Regions from separate parts of the Homo sapiens genome. Here all the other regions are linked to region 7. Evidence: fine-mapped expression QTL. A gene starts in region 7. Each other region holds a variant in brackets. All regions are shown on one strand. Distances are from middle to middle. Region 1 overlaps PARAIL (palmitic acid regulated anti-inflammatory lncRNA). Region 2 has its middle 48 kb from the start of PARAIL. Region 3 overlaps PARAIL (palmitic acid regulated anti-inflammatory lncRNA). Region 4 overlaps PARAIL (palmitic acid regulated anti-inflammatory lncRNA). Region 5 has its middle 160 kb from the start of PARAIL. Region 6 has its middle 44 kb from the start of RIPK2. Region 7 holds the start of PARAIL (palmitic acid regulated anti-inflammatory lncRNA).

What was found. PIP is the estimated chance that this variant, and not a neighbour inherited with it, causes the effect.
Region 1: its variant is fine-mapped to the expression of PARAIL in whole blood (TOPMed, PIP above 0.99).
Region 2: its variant is fine-mapped to the expression of PARAIL in cerebellum (GTEx, PIP above 0.99). The same link has a PIP of 0.9 or more in prefrontal cortex.
Region 3: its variant is fine-mapped to the expression of PARAIL in whole blood (TOPMed, PIP above 0.99).
Region 4: its variant is fine-mapped to the expression of PARAIL in monocytes (Schmiedel 2018, PIP 0.95).
Region 5: its variant is fine-mapped to the expression of PARAIL in left ventricle (GTEx, PIP 0.94).
Region 6: its variant is fine-mapped to the expression of PARAIL in fibroblasts (GTEx, PIP above 0.99).

The regions. Positions count from the first base shown.
Region 1 is chr8:89,715,548-89,719,616 of GRCh38, forward strand. PARAIL (palmitic acid regulated anti-inflammatory lncRNA) reads right to left here. Exons shown (of 5, transcript NR_125822.1): 5 at 1,852-2,181. Among named protein-coding and RNA genes, the nearest start is that of PARAIL, 40 kb to the right of the region's middle. The variant C/T (reference allele first, on the strand shown) is at 2,112.
Region 2 is chr8:89,707,724-89,711,792 of GRCh38, forward strand. No RefSeq gene overlaps it. Among named protein-coding and RNA genes, the nearest start is that of PARAIL, 48 kb to the right of the region's middle. The variant T/G (reference allele first, on the strand shown) is at 1,867.
Region 3 is chr8:89,722,155-89,726,223 of GRCh38, forward strand. PARAIL (palmitic acid regulated anti-inflammatory lncRNA) reads right to left here. Exons shown (of 5, transcript NR_125822.1): 2 at 3,364-3,487; 3 at 2,475-2,812; 4 at 1-2. Among named protein-coding and RNA genes, the nearest start is that of PARAIL, 34 kb to the right of the region's middle. RefSeq lists enhancers at 3,550-4,069, 3,675-3,724, 3,755-3,804, 3,855-3,954. The variant C/G (reference allele first, on the strand shown) is at 2,523.
Region 4 is chr8:89,727,298-89,731,366 of GRCh38, forward strand. The region is part of intron 1 of PARAIL (palmitic acid regulated anti-inflammatory lncRNA); the gene reads right to left. Among named protein-coding and RNA genes, the nearest start is that of PARAIL, 28 kb to the right of the region's middle. RefSeq lists a silencer at 2,156-2,205 and an enhancer at 2,406-2,455. The variant CT/C (reference allele first, on the strand shown) is at 2,152.
Region 5 is chr8:89,594,063-89,598,131 of GRCh38, forward strand. No RefSeq gene overlaps it. Among named protein-coding and RNA genes, the nearest start is that of PARAIL, 160 kb to the right of the region's middle. The variant T/C (reference allele first, on the strand shown) is at 1,955.
Region 6 is chr8:89,800,183-89,804,251 of GRCh38, forward strand. No RefSeq gene overlaps it. Among named protein-coding and RNA genes, the nearest start is that of RIPK2, 44 kb to the left of the region's middle. The variant T/C (reference allele first, on the strand shown) is at 1,718.
Region 7 is chr8:89,756,144-89,760,212 of GRCh38, forward strand. It overlaps PARAIL (palmitic acid regulated anti-inflammatory lncRNA), which reads right to left and starts at 1,568. Exons shown (of 5, transcript NR_125822.1): 1 at 902-1,568. It overlaps RIPK2 (receptor interacting serine/threonine kinase 2), which reads left to right and starts at 1,673. Exons shown (of 11, transcript NM_003821.6): 1 at 1,673-2,090. The coding sequence starts at 1,918. RefSeq lists a silencer at 1,419-1,538 and enhancers at 2,079-2,148, 3,427-3,516.

The sequences.
Region 1 (4,069 bases), 41 kb before region 7:
TGTTGATCCCGTTCAATCTATTCATTTCAGAGATGAAATGAAGAATCTATTGTATTTTTCATCTCTATAACTTTGATTTGTCTTCTTCTATTATCTATATCTCTCTTCATCATGCTCATGCTTCCCTATACCTTACTCATGATGTGAAGCATATTTACAATAGACAATTTTAGTCATTACATCACCTCTGTCATTTCTGGTGCTGTTTCTATTTATTGACATTTTTCTTCTGATTATGGGTTAGGTTTCTTATTCTTTCTACTGTCTGGTAAATGTTTTATTGCTTTGCGACATTGAAACCTCACTTAATAGGGTGGTAGATTTTGTTGTAACCCTTCTAGTAGTCTTAGGCTTTGTTCTAGCACGCAGTTATGTTACTTAGTAGCAGTCTACCTCTTTTGAGGCTTGTTAGGGAAATCCAGAGTATATTTTAGTCCAGGGCTAATTTAGCCTCACTACTAACTTCACTACTGAGGTATTCTTCTGAGGATTCTATTCAATGCCCCTATATAATACAGTGTAATAAGGTCTTTCCACTCTAACTGATGGGAACACAAACTCTTCCCAGCCTTAAGTGAGCTTCAGGAATTATTTGGCTTATTGCCTCCCAGCAGTTCTTACCCCTGCCAGGGGTATCTTTCTCTCTCACATGCACATACCAAGGCTCAAGGGACCCCTTTGTGATCTCTGGGTATATTCTCTCTTATCTCTCTCTCTCTCTCTTCACCAACCCCCCCCCCCCACCCAAAATCTCTATCCACTTTAGTCTCCATGAACTCTAATTTCTAATCCCTCCACTAAGGTAGACTGCCAGGATCTGTTCGAGGTTTCCCTCTGATATGGTTTGGCTCTGTGTCCCCACCTAAATCTTATCTCAAATTGTAATCCCCCATGTGTCAAGAAAGGGACTTGGTGGGAGGTGACTGGATCATGTGGGCAGTTTTCCCTATGCTGTTCTTGTGATAGTGAGGGAGTTCTCATGAGATCTGACGGTTTAAAAGCGGCAGTTTCCCCTGCACTTTTGCTCTCTCTGTCTCTCTCTCTCTCTCTCTGTCTCTCTCTCTCTCCTGCCACCTCTTAAAGACATGCCTTGCTTCCCCTTCACCTTCCACCATGATTGTAAGTTTCCTGAGGCCTCCCCAGCCATGAGGAACTGTGAGTCAATTAAACCTCTTTCCTTTTTAAATTACCCAGTTTCAGGTCATTCTTTATAGCAGCGTGAAAACAGACTAATAAACCCTCCATCTATTAAAGCTCGAAAACTGCCTCTAGGTGGCAAGCCAAGCTGAGGTAATAATAAGGTTCAATTTGTTTATTATGCCTGAAAACATTGTTTTGTCCAATTTTCTATTTGTTTGAGGTACACAGTAAATGTAGTCTCTGTCATCCCATTATAGCCAGAGCAGAAATGATCTCCAGAAATCTTTTTTAAATGTCAAATTACTTGCTGGATACCTCTTTTTACAAATATAGGAAGATACCTCTACTTCCAAATATAAGACGCATATGAAACTTAACATATATAAAGTTTAACTCTGCTCTCCTCTGCATGCCCTGAATCAAGTAAACCTGCCCCTTCTTTCATGTTCCCCGTGTCAGTAAATGGCAACTCAATCATTCCCATTGTTTGGACCAAAATTTCAAAATTTCTCTTTCACACTTAATAGCTAAACCATCAGCAAATTCTTTCAAATCTTGTCCTCAAATGTATATACAGACTCTAATCCGATCGCAACCATCCTAGTTTACTTCAGCTCATCATCCCCTCTTTCCCTGGATTATTGCAGTAGCTCCTGTATCAATCAGGTTCACTGCAGTAATCCTGCATAAAAATTATTCCTCCAATCTCAGTAGCTTTCAATGCAATTTATTTCATGCTCATTGGTCTACAAGTCTGCTGTGGCTTTGCTATCGTTGGCTGGGCTTTGCAGGGTCATCCTGGCTTGATTGTAGGCTGCTGTTCAGGTTCAGGTTTGCTCCATATCTCTCGTTCTGAGGCCCAGGCTTAAGGGCACTGATTGCTCACAGTATTCTTTTGGCAGAAGCACAAAAGGGCTGGAAGAAATTTGCTGGGTCTTTTAAGGCTTTGCCTCCCCACTGGTACAGAGTCA[C/T]TTTTCACTCACATTCCATTGACTACAGCAAGTCAAATAGCCAAATCCAGTGATGGTGGCCTGGGGAAATCTTATGGGGAGGACAGTAGGGTGAATATTTGCTGAATAATAATCTACCACAGCCTCCTAATTGCTCTTCCTGTTCTTTCTCTTGTGCTTTTCAGTCTGTTTTCAACATAGAATACAGAATGTTCCTTTTAAAACACACCAAGATCCTTCTGTGCGAAAAACCCATCAATGACTGCTCATTTCCCTCAGAGTCTATACAGCAGTCTACAAAGCCTTAGTCACTCCTGCATCTGGTCACTTTTCTGGCTTCATGTTCTACTATTGCCTCCTTCCTCTCTGAGTATCATTAACACAGGCCTCTTTCTTTGCTAAGCTGGAACAGGCCAGGCAAATTCCTGTCTCAGGCCTTTGCAGTTGCAATGTACATATCTGAAACATTATTCTGCCCCCCCCCACCCCCAGTTGTCTCTCATGCTGTTCAGATCTCTGCTCAAATGTGACCTTAGTGAGGTCTTCCAAGAGTACCTTATTTGTAATTTCAAACTTTTTGATACTTTCTGGCCCTCTTCTTTGCATTACTTTTCTCCAGAGCACTTACTATACTTTGTTTTATTTATTGTCTGTCTCCTCCCACTAAAATGTGATATCCAGGTTCTAAGGGTTCTAAGGATGCTGTTGGAGAAACAGACTTGGGAAAGTACTGCTCCAAGCTCAAGCTGCTCTCACTAATGATCCTGTTTCTCGTCTTCATGTTAGGTGTTTTCTTAATAATGGCCACAAGGTGGCATGCATAATACCTAATTCCAAAAACATAGCCAAACATACTCTTAGGAGTTAAAGTTATATCATCCAGTATATGTAACTTTAGTTCACAATGGAAACAGCAGAAATTTTCCCAAATAAAATTTGGAAAAAATAAACAAGGAAAAAAGCAGCCCAAACCACAACTACTATCACCACACTGACCACTGACACCACAAGATACACAGTTTATCTTTCTCATTATGAAAATTTAGCATGTGAAAGCACAGGTTGAGGATTATTCTGGAATTTTCTTCAGGTCTTTGTTGTTTGCTTGGTTGCTTGTTTGCTTGCTTTTTAAATCTCTGTAGCTACTAAGCTTTCCTTTTGAGTGTGACAGTGGTAAGGGTCTCTCTTATGTCTTCGGGCATTTTATTTCAAAAGTTCACATGATGTAATCTTTATTATGCTTCTCCCCTCATAACAGGTAAGTCCTTGAGTTCACGACCATGAAGAAGTGATTAGTCAATTATCTGAGAACCACTTCCTCCTAAGTGAGAAGAAGAAACAAGCCAAAGATAGAAGAGGCAGCAGTGTGGGAAAAATTAAATGAAGAGACCTTCCCAAATTGTTCTCTTTTCCTGGTTCTCCTGTAAGGTGAGAATGGGCTGTATACACTCGGAAATGCATGCAACATCTATGGAGTGGTTATCTGTTACTCATTATATTGTAGTTCTCTGTTGTCATCGCTGAATCTCTGGTAAATGCTTGTTAGAGGCTACAGTGTGATCTCAACTGTACTGCAGGAAATTCAGGAAGGGTTGTATGCCCTAAATAGGCCTGGGTGGGAAAGGTGGAAACATCCACATTTTCCTTGGTGCCAGGGTGGGAGTGGGAACAGTGACTAATGAGTTCTTTGAGGAGCAGAGGGCAGAAGTCCTGAGTGCAAGATCCAGCTGTCCCTTCCTCCACAGATCCTCATTCCACTGCCAACTTTCAAAGTACTAATGAATAAGGAATCTCATTGGTTTCCTTTTAAGGGGCATCAAAATTCTGGTTCCATGTAAAATTTCTTATAGGTTTATACAATGTCTCTGCATTTTTAGCACCCTCTGTGTTTTCCATTGAATCTCATTTTTGAACAATTTCCCTTTCAAAAAAAGCAAAGCATTTTCCTAGTCATTCAAAACCATAACCAAGTTACTTGA
Region 2 (4,069 bases), 48 kb before region 7:
ATAATGAATTTCTGAATATTGACCTTGCATCCTGCAGCCTTGTGAAACTTACTTATTAGTTCCAGTAGCGTAATTCTTCAGTTTTTTTAAAAAGTGGATTATCATGTTATCTGCAAATAAAAACACTTTCTTTTCTCTATGTATTTTGTTTCTTTTTCTTGCCAAACTTCACTAGCTAGGAATCACAATAAAACACAGAAAGAAAGTAGTATATGTGGACAGGAGGTGAAATAGAAGTATATTGTTGAAGGTTTCATTCACTGTGTGGGAAATGATTTGTCATCTGGTGGTAGACTGTTGTGTTAGTTACCTATTGCTGAATAACAAAATACCCCAAACTTAGCAGCTTAAAACAGCAATAAACATTTATGATCTCCCACAGTTTCTGTGCATCTGGATGGGTTTAGCTGGGTGGTTCTGGCTAAGGGTCTCTCATGAAGTTGCAGTCAAGATGTGGAAAGGGGGTGGAGCCAAGATGGCTGAACAGGAACAGCTCCAGTCTACAGCTCCCAGCATGAGTGATGCAGAAGATGGGTGATTTCCGCATTTCCAACTGAGGTACTGGGTTCATCTCACTGGGGAGTGTCGGAAAGTGGGTACAGGACAGTGGGTGCAGCACACCAAGCGTGAGCCGAAGTAGGGGGAGGCATTGCCTCACCCGGGAAGTTCAAGGGGTCGGGGAATTCCCTTTCCTAGTCAAAGAAAGGGGTGACAGACGGCACCTGGAAAATCGGGTCACTCCCACCCTAATACTGCGCATTTCCAACAGTCTTAGCAAAGGGCACACCAGGAGATTATAGCCCACGCCTGGCTCGGAGGGTCCTATGCCCACGGAGCCTCGCTCATTGCTAGCCCAGCAGTCTGAGATCAAACTGCAAGATGGCAGCGAGGCTGGCGGAGGGGCGCCCACCATTGCCAAGGCTTGAGTAGGTAAACAAAGTGGCCAGGAAGCTTGAACTGGGTGGAGCCCACTGCAGCTCAAGGAGGCCTGCCTGCCTCTGTAGATGCCACCTCTGGGGGCAGGGCATTGCCAAACAAAAGGCAGCAGAAACCTCTGCAGACTTAAATGTCCCTGTCTGACAGCTTTGAAGAGAGTAATGGTTCTCCCAGCATGCAGCTGGAGATCTGAGAACGGATAGACTGCCTCCTCAAGTGGGTCCCTGACCCCTGAGTACCCTAACTGGGAGGCACCCCCCAGTAGGGGCAGATTGACACCTCACACAGCCGGGTACTACCCTGAGACAAAACTTCCAGAGGAAAGATCTGGCAGCAACATTTGCTGTTCACCAATACCCGCTGTTATGCAGCCTCCGCTGCTGATACCCAGGCAAACAGGGTCTGGAGTGGACCTCCAGCAAACTCCAACAGACCTGCACCTGAGGGTCCTGACTGTTAGAAGGAAAGCTAACAAACAGAAAGGACATCCACACCAAAACCCCATCTGTATGTCACCATTATCAAAGACCAAAGGTAGATAAAACCACTAAGATGGGGAAAAAACCGAGCAGAAAAACTGGAAACTCTAAAAATCAGAGTGCCTCTCCTCGTTCAAAGGAATGCAGCTCCTCACCAGCAACGGAACAAAGCTGGATGGAGAATGACTTTGACGAGTTGAGAGAAGAAGGCTTCAGACGATCAAACTACTCCGAGCTAAAGGAGGAAGTTCGAAACCATCACAAAGAAGCCAAAAACCTTGAAAAAAAATTAGATGAATGGCTAACTAGAATAACCAATGCAGAGAAGTCCTTAAAGGACCTGATGGAGCTGAAAACCAAGGCACGAGAACTACGTGATGAATGCACAAGCCTCACTAGCTGATTTGATCAACTGGAAGAAAGGGTATCAGTGATGGAAGATCAAATGAAT[T/G]AATGAAATGAAGCGAGAAGAGAAGTTTAGAGAAAAAAGAATAAAAAGAAATGAACAAAGCCTCCAAGAAATATGGGACTATGTGAAAAGACCAAATCTACATCTGACTGGTGTACCTGAAAGTGACAGGGTGAATGGAACCAAGTTGGAAAACACTCTGCAGGATATTATCCAGGAGAACTTCCCCAATCTAGCAAGGCAGGCCAACATTCAAATTCAGGAAATATAGAGAACACCACAAAGATACTCCTCGAGAAGAGCAACTCCAAGACACATAATTGTCAGATTCACCAAAGTTGAAATGAAGGAAAAAATGTTAAGGGCAGCCAGAGAGAAAGGTCGGGTTACCCACAAAGGGAAGCCCATCAGACTAACAGCAGATCTCTCGGCAGAAACTCTACAAGCCAGAAGAGAGTGGGGGCCAATATTCAACATTCTTAAAGAAAAGAATTTTCAACCCAGAATTTCATATCCAGCCAAACTAAGCTTGATAACTGAAGGAGAAATAAAATACTTTACAGACAAGCAAATGCTGAGAGATTTTGTCACCACCAGGCCTGCCCTAAAAGAGCTCCTGAAGGAAGCACTAAACATGGAAAGGAAAAACCGGTAACAGCCACTGCAAAAACATGCCAAATTGTAAAGACCATCGAGGCTAGGAAGAAACTGCATCAACTAACGAGCAAAATAACCAGCTAACATCATAATGACAGGATCAAATTCACACATAACAATACTAACCTTTCATGTAAATGGGCTAAATGCTCCACTTAAAACACACACATTGGCAAATTGGATAAAGAGTCAAGGCCCATCAGTGTGCTGCATTCAGGAAACCCATCTCACATGCAGACACACACATAGGCTCAAAAGAAAAGGATGGAGGAAGATCTACCAAGCAAATGGAAAACAAAAAAAGGCAGGGGTTGCAATCCTAGTCTCTGAAAAAACAGACTTTAAGCCAACAAAGATCAGAAGAGACAAAGAAGGCCATTACATAATGGTAAAGGGATCAATTCAACAAGAGGAGCTAACTATCCTAAATATATATGCACCCAATACAGGAGCACCCAGATTCATACAGCAAGTCCTTAGAGACCTAGAAAGAGACTAAGACTCCCACACAATAATAATGGGAGACTTCAACACCCCACTGTCAACATTAGACAGATCAACGAGACAGAAAGTTAACAAGGATATCCAGGAATTGAACTCAGCTCTGCACCAAGCGGACCTAATAGACATCTACAGAACTCTCCATCCCAAATCAACAGAATATACATTCTTCTCAGCACCACACCACACTTATTCCAAAATTGACCACACACTTGGAAGTAAAGCACTCCTCAGCAAATGTAAAAGAACAGAAATTATAACAAACTGTCCCTCAGACCACAGTGCAATCAAACTAGAACTCAGGATTAAGAATCTCACTCACAACTGCTCAACTACATGGGAACTGAACAGCCTGCTCCTAAATGACTACTGGGTACATAACGAAATGAAGGCAGAAATACAGATGTTCTTTGAAACCAACGAGAACAAAGATACAAGATACAAGAATCTCTGGGAGACATTCAAAGCAGTGTGTAGAGGGAAATTTATAGCACTAAATGCCCACAAGAGAAAGCAGGAAAGATCCAAAATTGACACCCTAACATCACAATTAAAAGAACTAGAGAAGCAAGAGCAAACACATTCAAAAGCTAGCAGAAGGCAAGAAATAACTAAGATCAGAGCAAAACTGAAGGAAATAGAGACACAAAAAACCCTTCAAAAGATCAATGAATCCAGGAGCTGGTTTTTTTAAGAGATCAACAAAATTCATAGACCGCTGGAAAGACCAATAAAGAAGAAAAGAGAGAAGAATTAAATATATGCAATAAAAAATGATAGATAAAGGGGATATCATCACCGATCCCTCAGAAATACAAACTACCATCAGAGAATACTATAACTACCTCTACACAAATAAACTAGAAAACCTAGAAGAAATGGATAAATTCCTCGACACATACACCCTCCCAAGACTAAACCAGGAAGAAGTTGAATCCCTGAATAGACCAACAACAGGCTCTGAAATTGAGGCAATAATGAATAGTTTACCAACAAAAAAAGTCCAGGACCAGATGGATTCACAGCCGAATTCTACCAGAGGTACAAGGAGGAGCTGGTACCATTCCTGCTGAAACGATTCCAATCA
Region 3 (4,069 bases), 34 kb before region 7:
CACTGTTAAGACGAGAAAAAGAATATGTTAAGATGGGGCAGGAATGCTGAACACACCTCTTTCCTTTCCCTGACTTTTTAAAACACTGCTACGTCCTTGTCAAATTCTGTTTGAGAAGTTAGACTCACACGCTTCCCAAATCTTAAAGCCTAGGAATACATTTTCCAGTAATACAGTAACTAGCGACAAAATTACTCTTCAGTCAAGCAAGTTGAAAGAAGTATGGAATTCATTTTAAATGGGTTATTAGCTGAATACTAAAATCAATCGTTCAATGTCCCAGGATTTTATCAATTAGATTTAACTGTAATTTAAGACAGTCATTAGCTTCCTAAATTCTTAAACTTTCAGAGCTTATAAAAGCAACACAGCCTGGCTGTGTATTTCAATCACCAAGTAGAGTCAAAACGTGTTTCAAGAGATCACTAAAATGCCTGCTGGAACTGAGGAAGGGAAAAAACAAGATAAAAACAAACACTAGCAAAACCGATACCCTAGTCACCTAATAAGCTTTTAGACAACAGATCTCCCTCCAGATTCTTGCAAGATTTCTTCTTTGACCTGACTCCCTTTAGATATAATAATTTATATGGTGCCCCTACTATCAGGGTTTAAGTGAGTCATCGCTTTGTTCTCTATATGTCAAAAGCACTCAGTACCTTCCACATATTCCTCTCTTGAAATTCAGAGTGGAACAAGTCACAAAACTTGTTTTCCCTCAGAGATAAGGTTATGCCAAATCAGCCAAGTCCCTGAGAAAAAGGCATCCCCAGTATTTTCATGTACTGGTACCATTTATTATAAAGGGAGACTTTTTAATTTTGTTGATTTGTTTGTTTTGAGGGGCCACATAAATTACTGTAAAATTGCTTTAGATTTCACACTCAGGCAGCGACACACAGTAGCTAAGAGACTAGACTTTGTCAGACAGAATGGGAATCTGGTAGGTTTTACCACTTACTAACCCACATAACATTGGGAAAGTAACATTAGCTAATTGTTAATTACTAAGGCACTGTTCAAAGTGCTTAACTTGAATGAATTCATTTACTCCTCAAAAGTCCCTATGAGATAGGATCCTATAAATGAGGTAACTGAGGTAAAAACAGTAAGTAATATACTCAAGATCACAGAGCTGGTAAAATAAAGAACTGAGAATAAACTCAGGTAGCCCTGTTGCTAAAGCCTATATTCTTAACCACTTCATTGGTGGTTTTTAAAAAATTTAAATACAACCCACTCCAAGAAGTAATTTTTTAAGGGCTGGGTGTGGTGGCTCACACATGTAATCCCAGCACTTTGGGAGGCTGGGGTGGGCAGATCACCTGAGGTCAGGAGTTCGAGACCAGCCTGACCAACATGGAGAAATCCCGTCTCTACAAAAAAAAAAAAAAAAAAAATTATCTAGGCGTGGTGGCACATGTCTGTAATTCCAGCTACTCAGGAGGCTGAGGCAGGAGAATCGCTTGAACCTGGGAGGTGGAGGCTGCAGTGAGCCGAGATCGCACAATGCACTCCAGCCTGGGCAACAAGAGCAAAACTCCGTCTCAAAAAAAAAAAAAAGTAATTTTTACTAGGACTCATTGTAAGAAATATGTTCTGTAACACAACCCAGTACATACACATATGTGTTTATTTTATAGACATGATAAGATATATATATAATTGAAACCAAAATTTGATGAAGCTATGCCTACTCTTACTTCCTGAAATGCAATGATATTTCATATTCTATTTTATTGTTTAATAACTACTGATCACTCCCTACAAAATTGATTTCAAAATCCACTGAGAGTCATGACCTGAAGTTTGAAAACAAGAAACATTTATTTTTACCACCATGGAAAATTTTGGAGGATTAAGTAAGATAACATACGCAGAGCATTTAGCATAACTCCTGGCACATACCATGTGCTAAATTCATGGTAGCTATTTTTATGTATCTTTTTGAAAACTAGCTGCAATTGTGGAAGGCAGGGACAATGAGGGGAAAACCCTGACTGGGCTATAGATGAATTTATTGTCAGTTAGGTCTGTCCTTGGTAGTGAGATGGGGAATTTCTCCAGTATCTTTAACTTGTGCTGCAATGGAAATGTGTATGCAGAAAGAGAGCTGACTCATGGTTATCTCTTCTCCACTACAAAAAATTGCAAATTACAAGTTATTGTGCCTCACCACTGGAAACCTCAGTAAATTCCAAATTATTGATCCATATTTACATCCAGTACTTACACTGGATACGATGATGTATACAGAACTGGTCTTCAAAAGGAGTCCTGCTGGGAAGAAGTGTTCATTTTTTGTTGATGCTTTATCAAATTACCACAAACTTAGTGGCTTAAAACAATGCAAATTTATTATCTTATAGTTCTAGAGGTCAGAAATCTGGACAGAGTCTCACTGAGCTAAAATCATGGTGTCAGTAGGGCTGGGTTGCTTTCCAGCAGTTCTAGGTGAGAACCCATTTCCTTACCTTTTCCAACTTCTTGAAAGAAGCCACCTGTATTGCTTGGCTCATGGC[C/G]CCTTCTTTCATCCTCAAAGCCAGAAACAGCAGGTTGAATCCTTCTCACATCACGTCACTCCAACTCTGACACTGACTCCATTGTCACATATCCTTTTCTGGCTCTTCTGCCTCTCTTCCATCTTTGAAAAACCTTTGTGATTACACTGGGTCCAGCTGAATAATTCAGGATAATCTCCCCATTCAAGATCCTTGACTCAATCACATCTTCAAAGCCCTCTTGCCATGTGAGGTAATATCAGAGGTGCTGGAACATTTGGTGGGGTTGGGGCAGTAGGCAACTATTCTGCCTAACACAGGACATAAACCACAAAAAAGAGCAAATAAGATGCAACAACAATAATGATAACACTGAACATTTACTATATGGCAGGCATTGTGCTGAGTAAATTATTTGCCTTGACTCACTTTCTAGGTGAGAAACCAAGACTCCCAAAGATAATGCAAAGTACAGAGTTATACAGATAGAAAGTGGCAAACCCAGGTCTGCCTGACTTCAAAGATCATACTCTCAACCACTTTACTACACATAACAAAATACCAAATCTATACACAATTAGTGGTTTGCAACTTTTCTCTATCAGGAATTCCTTTTGCTATTTTCCCTCCAGGGACCTGATCTTGAAAAATTTTGTAAATTAAACAGCAAAACATTTTATTAACCTAAGCCAAACTTCTGATTCCAACATCTGATAGCTTTGAGCTAAACTCTTTGTCTCTTTTGGGACTTACATAGTTCTAACCCCCTCAAAAAAAATGCAATTAACATTTCATTTTACATATCTTGGCATCATTTTGGAATCCTAAAAACAGGAACTCAAATAACCACCTTTATAGATACCTGATGAGTTGTTTCAGGTTGAAGTAATGATCCAAGAGTTCAGAGAAGGAGATTGATGGTGGTGGTGTAGTCAGAAGAAGTGGAATATAACCTCAGTCTCAAAGAAGCAGAAATTTCCAATGAACTAGAGAAGAAGGAAGAATACAAATAGCGTCTAGGAAGTGAGAACAAGTAAATCTAGGGAAGCTTGTTAGGAAAAACTGGAAAAGAAAATTAAGTAGAGAATAAATAAAGCATTCAGGCTTTGAAACACAGGTAAATACAGTTACATTTAACCAGATAGGAAAATACAGAATCTGGAAAGTTTCTGGGCCACAAAGTGCCACACAGTAAAATCAGGCATCTGCTCCTGGCATGCTTAAGAGCTCAGAATAAAGGACTTCCCCATTCTGCCCCTTCCCCCACTGTAAAGCTCACTGGCTTAAAAAACTGCTCCTTCTGCTACTATCTACCTCATTCTAAGCATCAACTCTAGGTGGGGCTGGTGCCTAGGCATTTTATAATTACTTTTCTATGTCTGCCTAACTTGGCTGAGAACCTACTTCAGAACTGACTCAAAAATCTCACAGATGCTGTCATTCACCCTCAGGATCTGTGTTTAATAATAGAGTCACAAGGCCTATGCAATCCAACTCAGCCCAGGGTCTGGCTTAGCCAATGTCTGCCAGCTGGTCTCATCCCCACACCCCAGGCCCCCACTTCATCA
Region 4 (4,069 bases), 29 kb before region 7:
AATACAAAATTACTAATTCATATTATGGTACTCACCTATTAAAACATTTTATTGCCCCAGAGTATAAGAGGATGCACACATGATTAACCATGACCATACATTAAAAATGTACCATCCAGACTCTGGAAAAACTTTTTGTTGTCTGTGGTAGCAAAAATAGTCATCTCGTTTAAACTGCACCTTCAGATCTTCTCTTTCCATAAATTTTCCTCGATAATTTATTCCCTACAAAATACTACTGATTTGATTCTTCATTCACTACCTCCCTAGTCTTCTTCTCATTTTAGCATGAATATTACTGAATCTCTTTACAGTGTTTCTGTTAAATATTTGTGTAGATATACATATGTATACTCTGCTGTCTTCCATGTAAGCTGCTTAATAACTAAGCTATCTTAGACATTTAATTTAGATGTGTGTACCATTTGATTACTCACTAAATAGAAATTTACATAATCCCTTTATTCTAACAAGTTTACCACCTTATCACAAAGCAAATCTAAAGAAAACTGCAAACCTGGCAAGGTGGCTCATACCTGTAAAACCCAGCAATTTAGGAGGCCGAGGTGGGCGGATTGCCTGAGCTCAGGAGTTTAAGACCAGCCTGGGTGATATGGTGAAAACTTGTCTCTATAAAAAATACAAAAATTGGCCAGATGTGGTGGTGCATGCCTGTAGTCCCAGCTATTTGGGGTGCTGCGGTGGGAGGATTACCTGAGCCTTGAGCGGTCCAGGCTGCAGTGGGCCATGTCTGAGCCACTGCACTCCAACCTGAGTGACAGAGTGAGACACCGTCTCTAAAACATATTAAAATAAATAAAACTGGAAATTTATGTTATTTGGTTCTGATGTTTACATGTCCAGCTATGGGCTCTGAAACAGCACCAATGCCATAGACAAAATCCTTAGAGAAGTCAGAGGAGCCACCTCTCTGACTGAGATAGAGAGAGGGCTCCTGGCTGAGTAATAACTACTGTATGAATTTGTCAATGTCCTCTAGTCAAAGACCACCAGCAACACATCTGCAGTTCTATAAAACTGGGTTTATTAATTCATTGCAAGGGGGAGAAACAAATACCATGGGAGACCCTTGAGCATATCAGTAAGAAGGTGTTAGAAAAAACTTACAGGATTTGAGTTTGTGGTAGGTGATTCGGGGGAGCTTTCAAGAAAATGGGGATCTTCCCTGGACTGGATGTTGTACAGAAACAGGGGGAATTCCCTGATTAGGTATCTTAATTATTCTTATCTAAACATTGAAAGGAATGAAGTAAGCTAATGCTATAATTGGAAAGAATCAGCAGTTATTCATTATTAGCCAGGAAAGGGGAATGTTCACTCATTTTCATGGATTGGACAGTGTTCTTATTTTTCTCTGTTCTGAAATGATCATGAAGTAGTCTAATTTCCATCTTGCTCCATTATAGTCACAAAGAGATCATGTGTGAAGTTTGTGTTCTGTGAAAATGTATATATTCAGAAAGAGAACTCCACAGCTTCACTGTGAGTGCTAAGCCAAGTCTTAGCCAGTAGTGCAAACTAGATAAGAAAGCTTTGCTCAAAGGGCAGAATTGGCCAGAAAACAACACTTATTATTGTCATTATTTACGAATATTGACAGGCTTATAAAGTCCTTATATATTCATTGTGTAACTTGAGCCTCTCAGAACAATCTTGGAAGATAAATAGACCATAGTACCTCCACATTGCACAACTTCAGGGGCCCCAATGATCATGTATTCCATGTGAATGATACCTCCCCACTGTGAACAACATCCCCACTGGAGTTGTACAAAAATGGCTGCCCTGGAAGGGCAGACATTTCTATTCTGTTTGACAACTATTAAAATTGAGCCAAAGAAGGTTCCTGAGTGCTCTTTATGTCCCAATAAACTCCACAGTTTTGTCATGTTCAGCTGCTGACGTTGGATCCCTGATGCAGTCATAGTTCCCCCTTCCAGAGAATTGCACCAGCCCGCCCTGTGATGACCTAGATTACACAGGCTACTACAATAAGAACAGCTCCGCCTTCTTCTACAACTGTATCTGCCCAAAACAGGATGTTAAAAAGGTTACTGAACTTATAACCTCCTTTCACAGTCACTTCTTAAGAAGTGTGTGTGTGTGTGTGTGTGTGTGTGTGTGTGTTGC[CT/C]TTTTTTTTTTTTTTTTTTGAGACGGAGTCTCGCTCTGTCGCCCAGGCTGGAGTGCTGTGGCGCGCTGGAGTGCAGTGGCGCGATCTCGGCTCACTGCAAGCTCCGCCTCCCGGGTTCACGCCATTCTCCTGCCTCAGCCTCCGGAGCAACTGGGACTACAGGCGCCCGCCACCACGCCCGGCTGATTTTTTTGTATTTTTAGTAGAGACGGGGTCTCACCGTGTTAGCCAGGATGGTCTCGATCTCCTGACCTTGTGATCTGCCCGCCTCAGCCTCCCAAAGTGCTGGGATTACAGGCGTGAGCCACCGCGCCCAGCTAAAAAGTTAATATACCTTAGTATATTTTGTTTATGACCCAGGAGTGACAGGTGAAAAATACAATTTTGAATTCTGAAAAAAAATTAAAAAGCAAAATATCCCGCTGAATTCAAAGGCGAAAATGTTTAAATGCAAGCGAAATACTAGTTACATGTTCTTCCACATTCTTGGAAACCTGCCAAGTAAAATATAAAAGGAAAATGGAATTTCCTAAGTAGTGTCTATTAATAATAAATATTTTTCCAATTATGTCTTTTTGTAGCTGGGAAATTCCCTCTTGTCACTAAGTTTCTCTCCTCAGACATTACAGAAAGTAAAACCGAAACTGAAGCACTCTACTGATAAATCAAGTAGTTCCCAGAAATAATATGAACTTTGATTCAAACAGATGTGTTCAGAAATCCTATCTCCATAATTTACAAAACTGTGACTTCTGGCAATTTACCTAACCTCTACAGACCTCACTTTCATTAAATTAACATACATACTTCTCTCGCCTATTATTATGAGTGTAACCTGGAATTCCCTATCAGAACCTGGACTTCCCTATTCTAAAATTAATGACGCTGTAACTGCATATTGTGGTGTCTATCTTCTTTAGAACACTAAAAACATTTCAGGGCAGAGACCACATGCATTTTGTTATTCTTGTATTTCCATCACCTAGCCCAATGGTACATAAAATATCTGTTGTTTTTTGTTTGTTTGTTTCATTAGGAGAGACGGACTAGAGATCTGCAGTATCAGGAAGGTCCATTTTTCATCCACATGCCTTTTTATAATGTTTGGATGTCTTACCATGCCTATTTGATACATGTATTTCTTTTTAATTAGAAATCATAACAGAGGGCCAGGCACAGTGGCTCATGCCTATAATCCCAGAAATTCGGGAGGCCAAGGCAGGTGGATCACTTGAGGTCAGGAGTTCAAGACCAGCCTGGCCAAAATGGTGAGACCCCATTACTACTAAAAATATGAAAATCAGCTGGGTATGGTGGCACATGCCTGTAATCCCAGCTACTCAGGAGGCTGAGGTGAGAGAACTGCTTGAGCCTGGGGGACGGAAGTTGCAGTGAGCTGACATAGCGCCACTGCACTCCAGCCTGGGTGATAGAGAGAGCCACTGTCTCAAAAACAAAAAAAAGAAAGAAATCATAACAGAGAGTCAAGGGAAATTAAGATCAAGATTTATCTTGTTCCCAAATAAAGGAACAAGGTAAATCTACATAAACCAATCTGAATGAATTGGAGATATGTAGTTTATCTGACAGGGAATTCAAACTAATGGTATTACAGATCCTCAATGAAGTCAGGAGAGCAACACAAAAACAAAATGAGAGCATTGATAAAAAAAGATAGAAAGTAATAAAAAGTACCGAACAAAAGTTATAGACTGAAGAATACTATAACTGAACCCTAACTAAAAAATTCAGCAGAGGGGTTGAGTAGCAGACTAATCAAGCAGAAGGAAAGATCAATGAACTTGAAGACAGATCACCAGAAATCATTCACTCTCAGGAACAAAAAGAAAAAATAATGAAAAAGAGTAAAGATAGGTTACATAAGGTCAGGCGCAGTGGCTTATGCCTGTAATCCCA
Region 5 (4,069 bases), 160 kb before region 7:
TTAAAAAGAAGGAGATCTTGCCACTTGCCACAACATCAATGAAACTACAGGACATTATGCTAAGTGAAATAAGCCAGGAATAAAAGAAAAACATTATATGATCTCACTTACATGTGGAATTAAAAAAAAAATTTTTAGGTCAAGTATACAGAAACAGATAATAAAACAGTATTACCAGGTTGCCAGTATTGGAAAGAGGCAGAAATTGAAAGATGTAGATCAAAGGATACAAAGTAGCAGACATGTAGAATGAATAATATCGAGATCTAATGTTCAATAGGATGATTATTAATAATATTGTATTCAGGAATTTTTGCAAAATGAGTAGATCTCAACTACTCTTGCCACACACACAAAAAAAATGGGTAACTATGTGAGATGATGGAGATGCTAATTTGCTTCACTATAGTAACTATTTTACTATCTATATGTATCCAACTAGATTATGTTGTGTGCTATATATATATAATTTATTTTAAGGGGGAAGGAAAGAAGGAAGGTAGGGAGGGAGGAAGAGGGGAAGGAAGAGAGGGAGGAAAAGAGGAAGGAATGAGGGAGGAAGAGATGAAGGGAGGGAGGAAGGAAGGAAGGAAGGAAGGAAGGAAGGAAGAAGGAAGGAAGGAAGGAAGGTGGGAGGAAAGAAAGAAGGAATGAATCAGGACTAAGACTAAAATCCAGGCAGTCTAGCTCCAGAGTTCATACTCTTAACCACTCTGCTCTATTGAGTAAGTGCATTAATGAACAAACCAACAAAATAAAGATATTACAATGATAAATGCAGTAATAGAGGCCTGAAGTAGTGCTACAAACACAGATGGGGGAGTAATTAATTCTGCCTGAGGATGGTGGAAACCTTCATATAACAAGTAGCATTTTTGTTCAGCATTGAAAAGTGAAGTGCACTAGGCAACAAACATAAGTATTTATTGTGACTTCATATGTCATTTATTGCAAACAATATTATCTATTTGAAGTCTAAAGTTTTAACAGTGTTTTTATTTGTTAGCAATATTAACTCTAGTCATCATTTTAGTTCCTCAGTCACTTCTCCTATGACGCAGGCCTCAGATTTTTTTCTAATTTCTTTGATAAAGATAATATTTGAGGGAAATGCAGACTTTTATCTTTGTGAGGTAGATTGTTTTTGCTGATGATTATGAAATGAACTAGAACTGAGATGGAAAATATGAAGTAATTTTTTCTTCTCTGTGTCATAAGATTTGCTTTGGCTCTCAATTCAGAGCAGCTTGAAACTGTAAACTGATCACTCCAGAGACCACCCATCCATTTTACAAGGTTCATATCTGGTTTTGCCAAACTTCCATTTGAGACCATGCCCAGTCCTCAAAGGAGTCATGAGAAGGAAACTGAAGAAAAGGGGAGATAGGAAATGTGGCCTATTGTGTCCAGAGAGTGTGATAGGAAAATGGGAGTCACAGGGATGTCATGGACATGAACTAAACACCACCAGAGCAACATTAGGTGTCAAGTTCCCCAAAATGATTCCTACTGGAGGTTAGATTAGCTAGAGCTGATTCTACCTCTGCAGCCCTTTGGCATATTCAGGGAACAAGGCTTAGCTTGCAAGTGTACAGCTGCTGAGCTTGCAAAGGAATGAAGAAAAAAATGTGAAAAACATCTGCAAGCATGTCATTCAAAAAAGACCTTGAGATAAGTTAACCCTAACATGTGAAAATCAGGACTTGGCGGACAAGTAAATTTTGTGTTATTTTACCCAGTTTCTGAATTGTGGAAGGAGAAAATAACATACTCAACTTTATCCCTCTGAAATACTTGAGTTCCTTTCAACTCTAAAGGTCACTGTTGAATACTTCTGACAAATACTTTTTAAATTAATCTCCATAAAACAAAGCATTTACATTTCAGCTTGATACCAGAAAAACAATATCCTGAATGAGAAGTTTTGTACTACACAGCATCAGTTTATATTCTT[T/C]TACAATGGAGTAAGATCACACATTGATCCCCTAGCTACACGCAGAAGATAATAAATAAAACACAAACACAGGACAGGCTGACCCCCAATTCGGCAATCATAAGCAAGCATTACCAGCAGGGCTACTGCTGGCACCATGGGCTCTGCATGATGTCATAATACAGTTCACTGTTAAGGACAGGAAGTAGACCTGGAGGACTTAAGATATCCATGTAGTTAAAATGATGCAATGAATTGTGGAAACATTAAGTAAACTTCAACACTGTCATCTTGCTGTTGGATAGTGCTCTACTTGGCAAAATACAATAATGGTGAAACAAGACCATTTCACACAATGACAACTGCAATAAACACAGTAAAACAGGGTGATGTGTGAAAGCAACTGAAGTATGTAGTACTTACATAGGACAGGGGTGGTTATTGTCATGTAAGATCTCTTGGGAAAGGTAATACTTCAGCTGTGTCCTGAACAATGAAGAACCATAGATGTCAAGATCTGGGGTAATGAGATTATGGGGAGAAGGAACAACAAATTCACACAATTAGTGAACAGTAGTGCTGAAAACTTAAACTCAGTCTTCTACTCTTTCCATTATCGGAATCTCTCTCTTTTTACTTAGTAAATGACAAACTGTGACCAATAGGTAACACAGCACCCATGAAGTCAAATTAAGGCTATCATAACATTCTTTTTTTTTATTATTATACTTTAAGTTTTAGGGTACATGTGCACAATGTGCAGGTTAGTTACGTATGTATACATGTGCCATGCTACTGTGCTGCACCCATTAACTCGTCATTTAGCATTAGGTATATCTCCTAATGCTATCCCTCCCCTCTCCGCCCACCTCACAACAGTCCCCAGAGTGTGATGTTCCCCTTCCTGTGTCCATGTGATCTCATCGTTCAATTCCCACCTATGAGGCAGCATATACGGTGTTTGGTTTTGTGTTCTTGCGATAGTTTACTAAGAATAATGATTTCCAATTTCATCCATGTCCCTACAAAGGACATGAATTCATCATTTTTATGGCTGCATAGTATTCCAGGGTGTATATGTGCCACATTTTCTTAATCCAGTCTATCATTGTTGGACATTTGGGTTGGTTCCAAGTCTTTGCTATTGTGAATAGTGCCGCAATAAACATACATGGCATGTGTCTTTATAGCAGCATGATTTATAGTCCTTTGGGTATATACCCAGTAATGGGATGGATGGGTCAAATGGTATTTCCAGTTCTAGATCCCTGAAGAATCGCCATACTGACTTCCACAAGGGTTGAAATAGTTTACAGTCCCACCAACAGTGTAAAAGTGTTCCTATTTCTCCACATCCTCTCCAGCACCTGTTGTTTCCTGACATTTGAATGATTGCCATTCTAACTGGTGTGAGATGGTATCTCATTGTGGTTTTGATTTGCATTTTTCAGATGGCCAATGATGGTGGGCATTTTTTCATGTGCTTTTTGGCTGCATAAATGTCTTCTTTTGAGAAGTGTCTGTTCATGTCCTATGCCCACTTTTTGATGGGGTTGTTTGTTTTTTTCTTGTAAATTTGTTTGAGTTCATTGTAGATTCTGGATATTAGTCCTTTGTCAGATGAGTACGTTGCGAAATTTTCTCCCATTTTGTAGGTTGCCTGTTCACTCTGATGGTAGTTTCTTTTGCTGTGCAGAAGCTCTTTAGTTTAATTAGATCCCATTTGTCAATTTTGTCTTTTGTTGCCATTGCTTTTGGTGTTTTAGACATGAAGTCCTTGCCCATGCCTATGTCCTGAATGGTAATGCCTAGGTTTTCCTCTAGAGTTTTTATGGTTTTAGGTCTAACGTTTAAGTATTTATTCAATTCAACAAGAAGAGCTAACTATCCTAAATATATATGCACCCAATACAGGAGGACCCAGTTTCATAAAGCAAGTCCTGAGTGACCTACAAAGAGACTTAGACTCCCACACAATAATAATGGGAGACTTTAACACCCCACTGTCAACATTAGACAGATCAATGAGACACAAAGTTAACATGGATACCCAGGAATTGAACTGAGCTCTGCATCAAGTGGATCTAATAGACACCTACAGAACTCTCCACCCCAAATCAACAGAATATACATTTT
Region 6 (4,069 bases), 44 kb after region 7:
GATTCTGATCCGTTTGACTGTTTCAGCTTGACGTGCCTTTCCTGAAAGAAAAATACCACCTCAACAAATCAGATCATTGTAACTATACATTAAGCCTAACATAGGAAGGTGTTGATATTCTGCTAAACTTCCCTAAACTTTGTGAATATGAGTGAAAACTTCTATACTTTGGAACACTGACTTCCATTCTTTAGAATCTGTGCTTCCCAAGAAGCCCGGCTTCAAACTTTGCACTTGAATCAACTCTGTTTAAACTAGATTCTGAGTCAGGCATGGTGGCTCACGCCTGTAGTCCCAACACTTTGGGAGGCTGTGGTAGGCTAATCACTTGAGACCAGGAGTTTGAGACCAGCCTGGCCAACATGGTAAACCCCATCTCTACTAAAAATACAAAAAAAAAAAAAAAAGTTAATCAGGCAATCCCAGCTACTTGGGTGGCTGAGGCAAGAGAATTGTTTGAACTCAGGAGGCAGAGATTGTAGTGAGCTGAGATCACACCATTGCACTCCAGCCTGGGCAACAGAGCGAGACTCGCCTAATGTCTTTTTTCTGCTCCAAGATCCCATCCAGGATGCTGATGAGGTGTGGAAAATGATTCCCCAGCCTGTGGGGCTTGGGCATGCTGAGTGCTTTTGAAAATTGAAAGGCCCCAGAAACAAGGTCCTGTCTAACCTTGTGTTGTTTCCCCAGCCCACTTCACCTCCCAGGACAGGAAGGGACTCTCTCTGGAGTTTCCTCATCTGTTCAAAAAAGTCTCTTACAAAAAAAAAAAAATTGCCTTCTATCTGCTTCCTAAAATGGCATTATCTATTGCAGAAAAAAGACAAGAATGCAACCACACCTGGACAGACTTGTTTTTAAGAAGATAATTCCTGCCACTGGAGCTCAGAGAAAATTCCAGAGAAAATCCTTTACAAGTTAATTACTGTTCCCTGGTCCGTCCATTCTCCCTAATAGTCATTTACTGCCCCTCAAAGAATTGTCTATATCCCCCAGCGCTTCCCTCCCCTATGAAAAAGGGTATATAAGCTGTACCCATTGGAAGATTGGGGGAATCCCTTTGTGATTCCACCACATTAATACATTTGTATGCCTTTTCTGCCTTTCATCAATTGATTTCAGCAAACCTTCAGAGGGCAAAGGGGAAGTTTTCCCCTGGCCTCTATAATACCACATTACATTTGGTTGCCCTGTCTCCTCAAACCTTTGCACTTTTTGACCCATCAATGAAAACACCTTTGCAAATATTATGACAGTGAGAGAACGCTAGCATGACTCATGCCCTCTTGCTTCTAGTCTCACAGGCTGGCTGTCTTCACTCATTCCTGGGCATAGACCAAGCTAATCATGGGAAAATCTTAGTATATAGTTTAATTTTGAAACAAGGATCATAATAGTCCTTCCCTAAAACTGATCCCTGCCTTGCTCAGAGACCAAAGCTGCCTTTGTAAAACTAATGAACGTTTATGACATAGGATTGTGGGAGGGATCTGAATTCTGCTAAAATGTAGGCATAGTTTCTATGTTCCCTTACTGCTCAGGAGTGGAGTCATGTGGCCAGAGGTCACAAGATTTGTGACTTCCCCACTTGCTCCTAAAGATAGTGTCACTGCTGTAGAACCTGAGGTTGGTCTTTTGAGATGTTTTTCAGATTTTTGCATTCTGGCAACTGACTGATCCCACCCAAACCCATGACTCATGACTCAACCGGTTCTAC[T/C]GCTCTCACTCAGAGGCAGATACAGCACACAAGCACCATTTTCCACACCCCTATGATTTCATTCTCACCCAATCAGCAGCACCCATTCCCTATCCCCCTGCCCACCAAATTATCCATAAAAACCCTAGCCTCTGAGTTCTTCGTGAGACTGATATGAGTAATAACTCCAGCCCTTCCATTTGGCTAGCTCCACGTTAATTAAACTCTTTCTCTACTGCAATACTGCAGTCTCAGTGAAATGGTTTTGTCTGTGCAACTGGCAGGAAGAACCCATCAGGGGATTACACGAATTCAATATCCAAGAATTTATTCTAAGGAAATAATCATAGGTGTGTGTAAAGATTAAGCCATGATGATGGTCACTGAGGCATTGCTTAAAAACTATTGAGAAACCAAAAGAGATTTTGCTTTTGGGGGTTATATCAATCCTTATTTGCCACTAGAAATTAAAACTGAGAAGTCAAGAATATATTAATTCATTTAAAACATCCAAAGTGAAAAACAGTTGATGAGAAGAACCATGTTATTTTACATTTTTGCATATCTCTTTGAATGTTTAAAAAAGTAAGTAAATAGAAGAGAACTGGGTTTTCATATCTGCATTCAATCTGTTGCAAAATCACATGTCATGTAGCCTCTGGAAAACTCCACTGTTCACCTGTGAGAGTATGGGAGTAATAAATGCAATAACATCTCAGAATTATTATGGAAATAGGTTTGACCTAGCAGATTCCCTGAAAGGTCACAGCGTCTCTGGGTGATACTTTGAGAAATGCTGGCTTAATACAACAAAAAGTTTAAAACAACATAAAAATTTCAAATAATCTAAGATATTATAAATGACCCTCAATACTATTAAATAAAGAATAAACACAATTCTTATTAACTAAATCATATTTGTATTTTTGTCTTTTTATTCTCATATTATGCTGGCAGAATTACCCCTTCTCCTACTAAGAATAATCCTTTGTTTCTGCATTTCTCCTCTAGCTTGTTAGATGACTCTCCCTCTCACTTCACTCCAACCATTCCCTTAGAAAGTTTCCTTCTAGAAACACTTAAGCCTGCCGAGAGTTTCTCATAAAATAAATAAATAAATAAAATAAAGTCAGCCCTTTCTGTCTACTTCTGTCTTTCTCTTTCCTCTTTTCATAACAGAGAGGATTTTTTCTCCTTTTTACCTCACTGCTTTCTAAATTCACAGTCTAGTGATTAGGTTTCCAGATTTTGTTTTTCTGTAAACTAATTACACATTCTGTTTTGGAATTTGCTTCTTACATATTTATATGTCATTACATGTAAATTATATTATTTTTTAAACTATTATGTGGTGCTTCATTATATTGATGTACCAATATTTAATCTATTTCCTCTTGATGAACGTTTTAATTTTCCTGACTTTCTGCTATTAGAAAAAATATGAATAGGTATGGTGTATATGTTATTCATTTATATGTAAATGAATTTATATAAAATATAAATTTAAATTAATTTATATAATTTTTTTAAAAATTTTACTTTAAGTTCTGGGATACACGTGCAGAATGTGCAGGTTTGTTACATAGGTATACATGTGCCATGGTGGTTTTCTGCACCTATCAAACCATCATCTAGATTTTAAGCCCCACAGGCATTAGGTATTTGTTCTAATGCTTTCCCTCCCCTTGCCTTCCACCCCCGGACAGACCCTGGTGTGTGATGTTCCCCTCCCTGTGTCTGACTTCAAACTATACTACAAGGCTACAGTAACCAAAACAGCATGGTACTGGTGCCAAAACAGATATGTAGACCAATGGAACAGAACAGAGCCCTCAGAAATAACACCACACATCTACAACCACCCGATCTTTGACAAACCTGACAAAAACAAGAAATGGGGAAAGTATTCCCTATTTAATAAATGGTGCTGGAAAAACTGGCTAGCCATATGGAGAAAACAGAAACTGGACCCCTTCCTTACACCTTATACAAAGATTAACTCGAGATGGATTAAAGACTTAAATGTAACACCCCAAACCATAAAAACCCTAGAAGAAAACCTAGGCAATACCATCCAGAACATAGTGTAAATTTGACATATATGTGCATACTTATTATTATTATTATTATTTTTGAGACAGGGTTTTGCTCTTGTTGCCCAGGCTGTCATGCAGTGGCACGATCTTGGCTCACTGCAACCTTCTCCTCCCAGGTTCAAGCAATTCTCCTGTTTCAGCCTCCTGAGTAGCTGGGATTACAGGCACGTGCCACGACACCCAGCTAATTTTTTGTATTTTTCATAGAGACGGGGTTTCACTGTGTTGGCCAAGCTGGTCTCAAACTCCTGATCTCAGGTGATCCACCCACCTCGGC
Region 7 (4,069 bases):
TAAAGACTGCCTCACCCCTATCTCCCTTTGCTGACTCCTTTTTCGAACTAAGTCGGCCTACACCCACATGATTAAAAGCTTTATTGCTCACCCAAAGCCTGTTTGGTGGTCTCTTCACACTGACGCGCGTTAACAGAATGAATGGATAGAAAAGTCTTCTGAGTACTTTTTAAGAAAAAAGCTTATTGGCCGGGCGCGGTGGCTCACGCCTGTAATCCCAGCACTTTGGGAGGACAAGGTGGGCGGATCACGAGGTCAGGAGTTCGAGACCAGCTTGGCCAACACGGTGAAACCCCGTCTCTACTAAAAATACAAAAATTAGCTGGGTGTGGTGGCGGGCGCCTGTAATCCAAGCTACTTGGGAGGCTGAGGCAGAAGAATTGCTTGAACCAGGGAGGCAGAGGTTGCAATGAGCAGAGCAGAGATCGCGCCACTACACTCCAGCCTGGGTGACAGAGCACGACTCCCTCTCGAAAAGAAAAAAAAAAGCTTATTAAGCAATAAAGCACAGAGTATCAGACCATATGTTTAGTGCTGAACATTTTATTATAAATGATCAAAAATGTTTAACATACTATTGTTTACAACCTCCCACTACTGTAAAATCTAACATTGCTACTTTCATTTCAGGTAATGCAAAAATACAAGAAGCATTAGCTGTCTGTAGGCAGAAATCTGTTCGAGTCATTCCTTATTACTGAATCCCTAGAATTAATTAAACATCTAGTATGGAGTTGGTATTGTATATAACATTTGCACTCACGTCTTACAAAATAGTCATCTAAGTAGAAAGGTATTCAAGGCAGAAGGATGGAAAAACGTTTGCAGTCTTTTTTGGTTGGCATGAAACACTGACTGCATTCCTCCCAGATTTATAAGAAAGAAATATTTGCAGTCTTACCTGGAGTTAGATGGATGGACTCTCTCAAGGTTATTTTTCAATCTCTGCACATACATACTTATGGAAGTAAGAAAGAAGAGGGAGAAAAGGCAGATCCCCCATAACAGCGGTTAAACACCTGAACTTGCTCCACTATGACAGGGTTTATCATCCACCTCTCAGTCCTCAAGTGGCTGGAAATATGGAAATTGGAGTCCAGGTAGACAGGTGAGTGTACAACCTCTTAAGTGTGGAGCCCTCGGAATTCACAACACTCCCCAAATCGCTTCCTGCGCAGGCGCGGAGTCGGAAGGGAGTCGGAAAGCAGACCCCGGTGCCCCCTAATAAAGCCCCCAGCCGGACGCTGCCGCTACCGGGGTTTGGCAACTTCCGGAAGACCTGTGGCCCAAAGGAGAATCCTGTTGGGGGAGGCGGGGGCCGGTGGTCGCTAACCAATCCGACACCCGCCAGCAGGCTGAAGAGAGGGGCTTTCCCAAAAGGAAAACTTTCCCAAACCTGGGGGATGGGAAGAGAAGACAAAAGGAGCTCCCTTTCCCACTTCCCAGCCGCCCGTCCCAGCCCTCGGCCTCCGCTGCGCGACCCGGGCGGAGGATCCCGGCCGCAGGCCGAGGCGAGAGCCAGGCGGGAGGGCCGCGAGCGGGCTGCCCCTCTCCCCGCCTTGCCGTCCGCCGCTGACGTAACCTGCGAAGTTTGGGGAGGGAGGAGCTCGGGCGGCCGGAGCTGGTCGCTGCGCGCGCCGGGGGGAGGGCCGGGGCTGCGAGAGAGGAAGCTCTTTCGCGGCGCTACGGCGTTGGCACCAGTCTCTAGAAAAGAAGTCAGCTCTGGTTCGGAGAAGCAGCGGCTGGCGTGGGCCATCCGGGGAATGGGCGCCCTCGTGACCTAGTGTTGCGGGGCAAAAAGGGTCTTGCCGGCCTCGCTCGTGCAGGGGCGTATCTGGGCGCCTGAGCGCGGCGTGGGAGCCTTGGGAGCCGCCGCAGCAGGGGGCACACCCGGAACCGGCCTGAGCGCCCGGGACCATGAACGGGGAGGCCATCTGCAGCGCCCTGCCCACCATTCCCTACCACAAACTCGCCGACCTGCGCTACCTGAGCCGCGGCGCCTCTGGCACTGTGTCGTCCGCCCGCCACGCAGACTGGCGCGTCCAGGTGGCCGTGAAGCACCTGCACATCCACACTCCGCTGCTCGACAGGTAGGCAGTCACTGGGGTTCCCTGGAAGAGCCCTCAACTCCTGCATCCCCTCAAGCCCCCTGACAAGCGGGCTCTAGAGCCCAAATGGCAGTGACCGCTTGGGGCCGGCCTCACCTCGTCACCTCTAGGGAGCCCTTCAAGCTTGGGAGATAGGGAGCACCCACCCTTCAAGCTCTGGCACCGTAGGGAGCACAGGCTTCTCTGGAGATGCAGCAGTTGCATTCCTCCACACATCTCTCCATTACCCTTTCTCTCCTTCCCTCTTACTCCTAGGCGTTCTGGCTCCGTACTCCAAAAATCAGCAATCACTGCCTAACTCTAAACGCTGGGTTTACTGAAATTGATGTGTGTTTATATATAGTGGGTGTGGGTTTTGTTTGCTTTGTTTTTTCCTTATTTTTGAAATTGGGCTGTAGGGCTGCACTGTCCAGTAGGTAGCTCTTAGCCACAGGTGGCTATTGAGCACTTGAAATGTGCCCGTCCGAATTGAAGTGTGACCTAAGTGTAAAATACCAGAGTTCGAATGCTTAGTATTTATTAAAAAAAGAACTTATAATATTTTATTATTTGTTTATTGATTATATGCTGAAATAACATTTTTGATATCTTGGGTTAAATATAAGATTAAAATTCATTTTATGTGTTTCTTTTTACTTTATGTGGCCACGAGAAAATTTTAAATTGTATGTGGTGGTGTTCACATTATATGTTTATTGGACCGCACTGCTTTAGAATCAAGGATGTTTTGCTTCTTATTGTTTTTATTTTGGTTTTGGTTTATTATGTGTTGTCAGGAACGTTTTATATCAAACTCAATACTAGCAGTTCAGTTTCTCCCAGTCTCAGTTTCTCTCACAGGGAAGATTAAGTAGAGGAAATGTGTGCTATTTTTGCCACAATAAATTGAACCAAAAGACTGTTAAATGGCCAGAAATTGTAAATGGCTTTCACTTATTGGTTTGTACAGGTTTTAAGGGAAGGTTAGCATTAGTTTCTGTTTTCAGAAGAACATTACAACCGCGTGCCATAGACCTGTGACTGTGTATTAGTCAATGGGTCACTAGTCTTGTGTATTTTACTTCCTACAGGGATTTAACTAGGCCCAGCATTCAGTTCTTAGTGAGTTAACATCCATGATTACAACATTCTCTTCTCCTCCTCCTATATCTAATGTGAAAATACGTCATCCCCGATGCCTGATTGGCCAGAAGCTGTGAGTATCCAGCATCAGATAAATTCCTCAGCTTCCGCCCTGCCAAAGTTACTGGATTTTCACCTGCCTGTGGCTTTTCTTCATTGTCTCTCACTGTCAGGCTTCGATGGCCTAAATGGCACAGGAGATTTGGGACACTTCTAGAGCTTGTTTCCACTTCTTGTCTATCATAATCCAGATTCAGTGATATACAAGGTGTGGTGTCTGTTTACTCCAGGCCTTATATTCTGTGGAGCAAGTGCTGGACAAGTGTGTATATGTGTCTGTAGTCAACTTTTAAGGGTGGTGGTTGGTTAGAGAGGGTGGATATATGTTAGAACCAGTTATGCAAACACTATATGGAAATGTAGCACTGATGGACCCATTAGGTATTGAAAAGCCAATTGATCCTCCCACTTTGGGTGCTGCTTCTCAGGATTTTGATTTATCTAAGCTTTGTGCAGTTTGGGGACCAAGAAGTGAAGAGGGAGTTTCCTTCCCATACTCATGAACAATTTTCATAGTCTAAAATTCTTCACTGAATTGGGTAGGAAATTAATTCTGTCTTCGAGGAAGCCATAAGACCAGCGAAACACTCTGGCATTTACTGCATCACATTCTTTTCTCCAATTTGTTACTTAAGATCTTATCATTGCAGTATTTATGTAGTCTGAGCATTAGATGAGGCTATGCAGTTGACTCACTGGTGTCTCTTTCCTCACTTATAAAATACGAATAATAAATACATGTGTTTCTCGGACTATGGAGAACAATGTTTGCATTGTTC